Regions from separate parts of the Homo sapiens genome. Here region 1 is linked to region 2. Evidence: fine-mapped expression QTL. A gene starts in region 2. The other region holds a variant in brackets. All regions are shown on one strand. Distances are from middle to middle.

What was found. PIP is the estimated chance that this variant, and not a neighbour inherited with it, causes the effect.
Region 1: its variant is the best candidate, but not a certain one, in a credible set for the expression of PTGER2 in fibroblasts (GTEx, PIP 0.57).

The regions. Positions count from the first base shown.
Region 1 is chr14:52,414,761-52,420,139 of GRCh38, forward strand. No RefSeq gene overlaps it. Among named protein-coding and RNA genes, the nearest start is that of PTGER2, 100 kb to the left of the region's middle. The variant C/G (reference allele first, on the strand shown) is at 2,673.
Region 2 is chr14:52,311,294-52,316,648 of GRCh38, forward strand. It overlaps PTGER2 (prostaglandin E receptor 2), which reads left to right and starts at 3,019. Exons shown (of 2, transcript NM_000956.4): 1 at 3,019-4,098. The coding sequence starts at 3,256. RefSeq lists enhancers at 2,249-2,809, 2,810-3,369, 3,604-3,753, 3,774-3,913 and a silencer at 2,974-3,083.

The DNA.
Region 1 (5,379 bases), 100 kb after region 2:
GCTAGACTCCGTCCCCCTCCAATCCCCCCCTACCACCGAAAAAAAAAAAGAAAAATGGGTCTAACCCCCAGAAGAATGCATACATGTTCATGTACACTCCACTTTACCTATGTGTATTACAGACCCCAAGTAAAAAAATCCCTCCTTAGATATAGGATATTTGTGGAGTGGAGCTCTGCATAAGCAAGCACAGGTCCTCTAACAGAGCCACCTCTACCTGCAGTTTCAGCAGTCAGCCTCTAGCTTACTAGGTGCATGTGTAGATAGAATGTAGTCCTGGGTTCCAATTACCCTTCCATCAACCTTCCTAAATGTTCTGGGACTTCTCTTTGTATTCAGGATCAAAGAATTTTAGACTATTAAACCAAAGGTGAAACAAGATTCCTGATGTTACAAATATTTACAACTATTTTTTTTGGTAACTATCAGAGAGCACTAATGACAACTAAAACAATTCAGAAACACACGGAATAGAACAAACTACACAATGTGCTAAATTTCATATGATAAAATCTGACTTAGGTAATCAGGGATAGTTTTTTCTTCAAATAGTTTATTAAATCAATTTGTACCAGAAACACACGCACACACAGGCACACATATATACACATATACATATATGGGCATACATAGTGAAGCTCTGAAATTACAGGAACATACATAGTATTTATGTTAATATATTTTTGAATATTATTTATCAAGACTATGCCTTTCTTGAAAAGATATCAAGATCTGAAAATCCAAAAATATAAAACAAGAATCTGTGGATTTTCATTTAAAAAGTAATTCTTGGGCCAGGCGCAGTGGCTCATGCCTGTAATGCACTTTGGGAGGCTGAGGCAGGTGGATCATGAGGTCAAGAGATAGTAACCATCCTAGCCAAAATGGTGAAACCCCGTCTCTACCAAAAATACAAAAAAAAAAAAAAAAATTAGCTGGGCATGGTGGCGTGTGCCTGTAGTCCCAGCTCCTCGGGAGGCTGAGGCAGGAGAATCGCTTGAACCTGGGAGGTCAAGGTTGCAGTGAGCCAAGATAGCACCATTGCACTCCAGCCTGGGCACAGAGCCAGACTCTGTCTCAAAAAAAAAAAAGTAATTCTTAATTTTAAAAAAGTACAAAATTATTTATTCAACTAGAAGTTCTGTCCATTCAACTACTTGTCACACATCTGTATAAAAGGGCATTTACTCAGAGGATTATTTTATTATTATCAGAAAACATAAAAGGTGAGTTGAAAGATATCAAAAAAATCTCTATTTTAAAAGGACACTTTGGAGCCATAAAAATCATTATTTTTCTCTAGCAGACCAAAAGCTAAAGATCATTTTCAGGGGGATGGACCAACAGCAATGGATAGGGCCTGAATTCTCAGATTTCCCATAGCATCAGTGGAGAGAGAAAACTTCCACTTTATGAAGCTAGATTAGAGCAAGTGTTAACAAAATAAAGTCTTCTACACATTAAAAAAAATCTCATACCGGCTCATTAAGGGAGCAAGGGAATTACTAGAAATAACTCTGAAATTCTTTCCCACAAATACTGAACTTTCATTCTTTTTAAAATGCGTGTCTGTCAACAATTACAAGAAGGAACAGTAAGACAAGGAAAACAAAGAAGTTGCTGATTATAGGTTCTGTTATGAACAAATATATATTTTTAAATTTTATATTTTCAATGGTAGACATGATTTCTTACATGTTTATAATAATTGCACTTGGGTTGATTCCTAGAAACTTGGGAAAGTATAATCACATAGTTTATAGGTTTTACATTTACTTTTAGAAAGGCAAATCATCTCATGCATTCCTATAAGAAAAAATACCTTTGTGAATTCTTGGGTTTATACTCCTAAAATATAAAAATGCTTTCTCAGGAAAAATGAATTATGATCAAAATTTTAAAAATCAGAGATGCAGAACTCAATCAGAAATTCCCTTCATAGGCTAGGGGAAGTGACCAAGGATAAATCAAAACACTAAGACTAAAAATGTTTCAGGTACTGGTTGTGTCTTCAGTGTTTTCCCTGAAGCCCAAATCAGATTTAAGTAAGATGTAAGAGGTATGAGAGGTCTGCCTTGAATCCTAGAGCTTGGAAAGTCTTTTGGAAAAGACATGGAGAAAAGAAACACCTTTGTGAAAACCTAGACAACTATGGCCGAGTGACTGGGATACATTTGTAACAACGTAGAAAAGGTGAAAAACAACAAATTCTATATACAGGTGATTGATGATTTAAAATATCAAAATAAACTTTAAAAGTCCTTTATACCATTGAAAACATACACTTTACAAAAGCACTATACCATGTAATTCAGATTCTGAGACCTGTACACACTTAAAAGCAGAAAGTGTTTGCAGTACTACTTATAACAGCATCACCTAAAACACCAGTCTTCAACCAACAGGTGATAAATGGCAGCACAAATAAATTATCTAAAATATATTCTCCCTTAAATTTGTTTTATAAAAATCCTGCCTAGGGCTGAAATTCATCAACTTCTGAAAAATAAGAATTTGGAAAATCTCACTTTCAAATGTCCAAGAAGAAATCTCATAACCATGGCTCAGTGGCTTCCTTTGGTGACAAAAACAGGGTAAATCGATGTTATAGTTCATCAATATCACAAAATGGATTGTAGGTTGCATTTGCCAGGCCTTTCACAGTGTCCTGG[C/G]GTTTATTTTCCTCTCTTATGGGTTTTTCTTTATTTTATCATTTATGATCATTTATTATAATAATGGTTTGGTGGTTTCTCCCACATATTTTCAGAGCATCTTAGGCAAGCTCCTTTACCTCTCTGAGCCTTAGTTTCATCATTAGTAATATAAAAATGGAAACATCTACCACTCAGATCTTCCTTCTTGGGACTTGAGTGTAATTTATCTTCTAAAACATGGAGTCTCTCTTCCCCACACACCTGGGAATTTACTACAGTTTCATGGCAATTATTTTTTCATGATTCATCTTCAGGTTTACAGCTTATCATGGATTTTTTTTCACCATGTCTCCTTAAAAGATACAAATGGATCTACCATTTCCTCTGTCTTGTTTTCCTGCATTTCCTGCTTTTCATGCCTAGAAACAGAAAGATTACACTCACATGATGAACATCCATACTAACAACATCCCATAAAATGTTACCAATCTGAAAATTTCTGATCTTGACTGTCACTCCATCTTCACTTTAAAAAAAAATTGTTTTTAAAGGAAAATTGCCATAAGATTTTAATTCACCTCCATCAACATCCATCCCTCTACCCCTACCCCTCGCCTCCCATCAACTGCTCCTACCTAACTTGTGGTCTATGGGAAACACCCTTGACTTGCAGTCTGCATGCCTGGTTCAAGCTCTGATTCTACTCCTTAAGAGCTTCAGAAAAATCTCCTTAACTGGCTGGGCGTGGTGGCTCACACCTGTAATCCCAGCACTATGGGAGGCCGAGGCGGGTGGATCACGAGGTCAGGAGTTCGAGACCAGCCTGGCCAACATGGTGAAACCTCGTCTCTACTAAAAATACAAAAACTAGCCAGGCGTGGTGGTGGGCACCTGTAATCTCAGCTACTCAGGAGGCTGAGGCAGGAGAATTGCTAGAAACTGGGAGGGGGAGGTTGCAGTGAGCCAAGATTGCACTACTGCACTCCAGCCTGGGAGACAGAGTGAGACTCTGTCTCAAAAAAAAAAAGAAAGAAAGAAAGACAGAAAAATCCCTTTAACCAGGGGTTCCCAAGCAGGTTCACTATCAGCATCATCTGGGCAGCTTTTTAACTGTTAAAGCAGAATCTTGGAGGGGGTAGCGGAGGGGAGGAGAGTGAAGCACACAAAAAAATACAAGGGTCTCTTTTATGAAAAGCTCTGCTAGATGATGCAAATGAAGACTCTAGTTTGTGACCTATGTGCTGTAACTTATTTATTTATTTATGTATTTATTTATTATTTATTCATTTATTTTGAGATGGAATCCTGCTCTGTCACACAGGCTAGAGTGCAGTGGCGCGATCTCGGCTCACTACAACCTCTGCCTCCCAAGTTCAAGTGATTCTCCTGTCTCAGCCTCCTGAGTGGCTGGGATTACAGGCCCATGCCATCATGCCTAGCTAAATTTTGTATTTTTAGTAGACCTCAAGTAATCCTCTGCCTTGACCCTCCAAAGTGCTGGGATTACAGGTGTGAGCCACCGCGCCCAGCCCCATGTGCCACAACCTCTTGGTTTTGTTCCTAGCTTGTAAAATACTGAGTCTATTTTATAATGATATTGTGAAAACTAAACAATGTATAGGAAAGGGCTTTATAAATGGGAAACTGAATATAATACAAGGTAGTATGAATCAATACTTTTGTAAACTTTAGAGTAAAATAAACTTATTATCAATCATTTCTGCAGCAACCATCACACACAGGATGTGATATAAACATATCAATACTGACTATCTTCTGAAATGCTCATAGTATAAACTCTCTGAGTATACCAGAACACAATTTTAAAAACACATAAAGGAGTTTTAAAACTGAAAGACAAAATGTTTTCACAAGACTTTAGAATAACAAACATCTAAATAATTTCACTCTTTCTGACTTCTTGAATTACATTAAGACTTTATTGTGGGAATCTGCTTCTCAAAGTCCCAGTCTTCTAGGAAACCAGAGAAACACTGGAAGACTTTGAAGCCAAACTAAAGAAAAGAAATGGATGTGCAAATATTGGTATTGGTCTGTCTCCTTCCCATACCTAAGTTGTTTCCTGGAACCATAGTAATTGAGATGCTAAGGGAGGTTTACTAACTCAGTTCCCATTTTGTGCAATTTATATTGCAGGGAATAAACTGTACTCTAATAGTCTGGAAAAATTATTTCAGGAAATGACTTTGGCCCTAGAGAGTATCTGATTCATTGTAATTTCCAGGATAAAACATTCACCTACAATTTTTAATCCCCCAGAGGGCTTAATCTACTTATGTTAATGCAAGCAAAGGGGCTGGTAGAAAGGGACTCTTACTCTAAAATGATTATAATTATCATTTTAGGGAGACCATGTGTTTAAGGTAATCTATCATAGATGTTTAATTCTCCTCTTTCATCAAAATAGAAACACTTGAAGTTTACTTTTTTACTCTTGGGAATGGGTGGGGAATAACTGAATAGGCTTGTAACCCTAAATCATAACCTACAATTCAGAGTTCAAGCTCACTAGTTCAACAACACTTTGCTGTATCTGGCTCCTGTTCCTCTCTGGCCTCCTGCATGTCTTTTCTTCAAACACTCTTCACTCCAAATGGAACTAGTGCTCTTGTTTCTGCATGCACCAGGCTGTTTGAGGTCTCCATGTCATCACCCAGGCTCTTTCCTCTCCCTGGAAATTGCTTTAGTAAATTCTACCTATACT
Region 2 (5,355 bases):
TCAGCGGCAGGAGATCAATGTCCCCACTCATGCAGTGAGGCAGAGAGTGAATTTCACCTTCCCCTACTTTTTTAGTCTATTCAAGCCCTAATGGATTGCATGAAGCCCACCAACACTGAGAAGGGCATGTGCTTTACTCAGTCCATCAACTCAAACACTAATCTCCTCCAGAAACACTTTCACAGACATACCCCGCCATCATGTTTAACCAGCTACCTGGGCATCCCATGGCCTAGTCAAGTCGACACATAAAATTAACCATCACATAGTGTTCCCCACATACAATGGCCCCACAAACAGGAACTAAACAATTAGCAAAGCTCTATGGCTCAATTCTAGAATTGAGGGTGTTAATCTGTTTTCTGTTAAGGAACTCTAGGCTCTATGTAAACTGAAACTGTATCAAAATGCTGACACTAAAATTAGAAATGGGAAGAAGTAGCTTTTAAACCACAAAATTAACTGGGGGTAACTGACAAGCAAGATTAGACTTGCACTTAAAGGAACAAACGTGATGGTCCAGTTGCTACGTAGCGACAGCAAACTTATCAACTCTCCTACTCAGCAATCTAGCAACAGGGAACACAGCAAACTGCTAAACCAAACACACACACACACACACACACACACACACACACACATATGTATGTATTCTGTCCAAATGCTGGAAGCAATTAAAAGGAGTAATTTGAACAAGCAATGCTGAGCAGCACAGTAATTAATAGGATACTGGCCTCCCAAGATTTATAGGGCCCACTCTAGTCTTCCTCTTGTCACATACCTTACCACAGGTGAGACACCCTCAGGGCACTATTCACCCAGACCCCATTACCCCTCCATTCTAGACCACCTTCCAGGTACCTGAGATCATGAAATTTCCTGCTCAAATGTTGGTCCCATAACTCGCTTCCAGGGCTTGATCAGGCATCTTCCCTAGGTCCATCCAATCAAGGGTCATTTGCATGTTTGAGATGCATATTCCCAGGACCAAGGTGGCTTTGGGGAGAGAGCTTGGTTATCAACAACTATAGTGTCCACATATTGAACTATACTGTCCACATATTGAACTATACTCTCCACATATTTCTGTGCAAGACTCCTTGTGGTGCAAGACTGAGTCAGGGGTTAGGAAGACAAGGGGGCAGGGGCCTGGGGGAGGATCTTCAACTGCACTCTTGCTCTCGTATTCACAAAAACCAGGGGCCGGCCTGCCACCAGGTACCCATCCAAAGAAAAGCTAGAGACAAATATATAGGAAAGGTTAAATAGTAGGTTTTTGTTGTGAGGGGCCTTATGAAAATTAAAAAGGTATAAAAATATTCGGAAAATAAGCACTGTGCAAATTCAGTGAATCTAAAATCCCTTATTTAATAGTAAAACTGCAGTGCAGAATTATGCTATAAATCATAGTGTTTTCCTATTAAGAAATACTTCTGATTTAAGTTTGATGTTTCCCCATTGCTTGGGGTGAGATGGGGGAATGTTGGAGTAGGGGAATAGTCAGAGATGGATGGCAAAGATTGGTAATAAGTTGTTACTGACCTGCAGAGTTTACAGCTTGAAAGAAAAACTGTAGGAGTTAAGATCCTCTTTCCTAGGAATCCATGCCATGAGAAGTTTAGGGATTGAAGTAGTGCCTGCTGACATGTGAAAACCGGCCTGTAAACTTTGCAAGCGATCCAGTAAATTATGCTTGTTCTAGTGGGAACCACCCCCCCCAACTCCGCATTCCAATCCCCAGGCCAGAATCATCAAAGTTGGCAAAAAATATTCATGGAGAGTAAGCAGGCTGTAGCAAGATAGGCTCTTCAGCAGGCAATCTTTGCTTCCTCCCACGTTATGACTGTCTTTCTTGCCAGTTCCCTAGGCAGATCAGACCCTTCACTTCCCAGTTGGCCTCCCTTCCCCAAGTGAATGTGACTTCTTACAGAACACAATTACCTATGTTGTCTGCCAAACTGGATTTTGTTTTGTTTTGTTTTGTGTTAAATATCAGCCCATTTTCACGACTCTGCAATTATGACAATATGTGGTAGGAAACCATTACTGTCAGCTCCAGTCTGAAACTGGCCACTTACCAATACACTTTGCCAGGAACAAGTCTTTCTGGATGGATACTACGTGGTTAACAACATGTAAAGATAAACGGCTAAACAAAATATCAACATTTTCTTACAAGGCTCAGCTTAAGGACAGAACAGTGATGTGCAATGGTTTTCATGTTGTATCCACAAACACAATTCTGTATAAGACACACTCCTCTTTTTTTAATGGTTGCTTAAACAAGTGGTTATCCGTTATGCTGTTGACATAGGAAACGGTGAAATGCTAGTAACCGAATCAAAGCGGCAGTGCAACAGGCCGCTCGGTGGTGCGCATTGTGTGGTTTGGTTCCTTGGATGGACACACTTGCTTTACGCTTCATCCCAATTTTTGTCCCAACCTCTTAGTGTATCTTCCTGGGAATAGTAAAAACAAAGCAAAACATTCTGGTCTTACTTCAAGCTGCCTTTGCACTGTTATTCCCTTGTTCCGCTCATTTCACGGGATTGGGTTCTCCTAACTTCATTGTTTGGTGAGTTGCTTTGCTTTGCTCGTTGCCCCGATCTTCTGTGTATTCTGCGCAGACCCCGCAAGTGCTCCTGCACTCCCTCCCAGCCCTCTGCTGGGGCTTAACGCTTCCCAGCCGAGGTCAGACTGCCGTGCGCTTCGAGTACCGGACCCCGAGGAAGCGAGAAACGCCGCTCCCGCCGGTCGCGGGCAGCTTCAGTACACCGGCAACACGCGCGCCTCTGCCCAGTGCCGCGCCCAGCGGGTGCTCAGACTCCTTCTCTCCCTCCCCGCCGGCGCGCCCCAGGGACTCGGAACGCCCCCGCGAGTGTGACGCGTCCTGCCTCCCCTGCAGCTCGCGGACACTCGCACTTGCAAGGCCTGGCCAGCACTCTTGGGCCCGCCCCCCGACAGTGCGGGGGCGGAGACGACGGCTCCCCTAGGCTCTGGCTCCCGGCCTTGGCCGGCGCGGGTAGGCGCGGGAGCCTCGAGCGCCGCTCGGATGCAGCAGCCGAGCCGCCACTCGGCGCGCGGCGGGAGACCCAGGGCAAGCCGCCGTCGGCGCGCTGGGTGCGGGAAGGGGGCTCTGGATTTCGGTCCCTCCCCTTTTTCCTCTGAGTCTCGGAACGCTCCGGCTCTCAGACCCTCTTCCTCCCAGGTAAAGGCCGGGAGAGGAGGGCGCATCTCTTTTCCAGGCACCCCACCATGGGCAATGCCTCCAATGACTCCCAGTCTGAGGACTGCGAGACGCGACAGTGGCTTCCCCCAGGCGAAAGCCCAGCCATCAGCTCCGTCATGTTCTCGGCCGGGGTGCTGGGGAACCTCATAGCACTGGCGCTGCTGGCGCGCCGCTGGCGGGGGGACGTGGGGTGCAGCGCCGGCCGCAGGAGCTCCCTCTCCTTGTTCCACGTGCTGGTGACCGAGCTGGTGTTCACCGACCTGCTCGGGACCTGCCTCATCAGCCCAGTGGTACTGGCTTCGTACGCGCGGAACCAGACCCTGGTGGCACTGGCGCCCGAGAGCCGCGCGTGCACCTACTTCGCTTTCGCCATGACCTTCTTCAGCCTGGCCACGATGCTCATGCTCTTCGCCATGGCCCTGGAGCGCTACCTCTCGATCGGGCACCCCTACTTCTACCAGCGCCGCGTCTCGCGCTCCGGGGGCCTGGCCGTGCTGCCTGTCATCTATGCAGTCTCCCTGCTCTTCTGCTCGCTGCCGCTGCTGGACTATGGGCAGTACGTCCAGTACTGCCCCGGGACCTGGTGCTTCATCCGGCACGGGCGGACCGCTTACCTGCAGCTGTACGCCACCCTGCTGCTGCTTCTCATTGTCTCGGTGCTCGCCTGCAACTTCAGTGTCATTCTCAACCTCATCCGCATGCACCGCCGAAGCCGGAGAAGCCGCTGCGGACCTTCCCTGGGCAGTGGCCGGGGCGGCCCCGGGGCCCGCAGGAGAGGGGAAAGGGTGTCCATGGCGGAGGAGACGGACCACCTCATTCTCCTGGCTATCATGACCATCACCTTCGCCGTCTGCTCCTTGCCTTTCACGGTAAGTCACTCCCTACGTTTCCACAGCCCGGCTCTGCTCAGCCTTCTCATGCTCTCCCCTGACGCCTCCACCCTTTCCACCGCCCTACAAACTTTTTGCAACTTGTAAAAATATGTCCTAATTTGTAAAGATCTGTAGCCTTCCCCACTAGTTTCCCCTCCTCTTTAGCCCACTTCCTTATCCTGGCTTATGGGCGTTGCTAGGCTAGAGTTTCTTATACAATAATACAGACCGTCCGAAAGGGAGTCCTGGGCCTCAGCTAAGCTAGCCAATCTCCTCATCCTAGCCCTGGGCAGTGTCCCTTTCTCGCTGTTGCCTATCTTGGCTTAGTAATTGAGAAAGAGGCAGCCCCTTCCACCTTAGGATGGCTGTCACTGTTCCAGCCTGACGACCTGGAGCTGCAGTTTGCTGCCCTGTACCTCTCATCCACTGGTGCTGGTTCTCCATGCTTGCCTTCTGTTCCTGCCAGGGCAAAATGTAGTACCCAACCCATAGCATTCCAGCTGCCATTGAAAATGGTCCCAGATGAGAAGGGTCCCTGAAGCAGAAGTTTAGAGCATTTGTTATTTGTCCTAAAAGTCCAACAAACATCTAGTTTATAGGTTTCCCAATTTATATATTTGAATGTAACTCTTTGTGGCCATGAAAGTTTATAAAACCATAATGATAACTAGAGGAAATACTTGGAGGAACATCTTGCTAAGCATTTGTAATATCTTGCAAAACACGCTCTTAATGTCACTGTCAGAAATACACACAGGTGTCCTTCAGCTTACAGTTATGCACTTGATGAGCACAAAGCCACAGGCAGGAATGGCTGGTCCCTCTCAGGAAGGGAAGAGTGGGGCTACCTGGGGAACTGAAGGACAAGAGACCAAGTCCTGGCATCGTGCTGCCTTGATTTGGGGCAACTTTAGCAGTTATTTGATGCTAACTAACTGCTAAATGATATGAGGCTGTGAGTTCAAGTCTCCTCAAGTGTAACGTTTTAGCTGAGCCTGGAATATGTCCGAGAATGTGCTGGCCTCTTACGGGGGCTAGGAATTGGGAGTTGTGGCAACTCCACTTCCTAATCTTCAGAAGAGCAAGACTGATGCTGCAGCATCAAAGCAGTTAATAGTGACTTCCACCTGCCACAATCTTGGAGAAAAGAGATGGGCAGTGCCTACTATTAACAGGTCTGACCTGTAAAAGCTGGAGGAGAAGTAACTTTATCCTATCTCCTGCCTCCATTACTGCTTCTTACATCTTCATGTG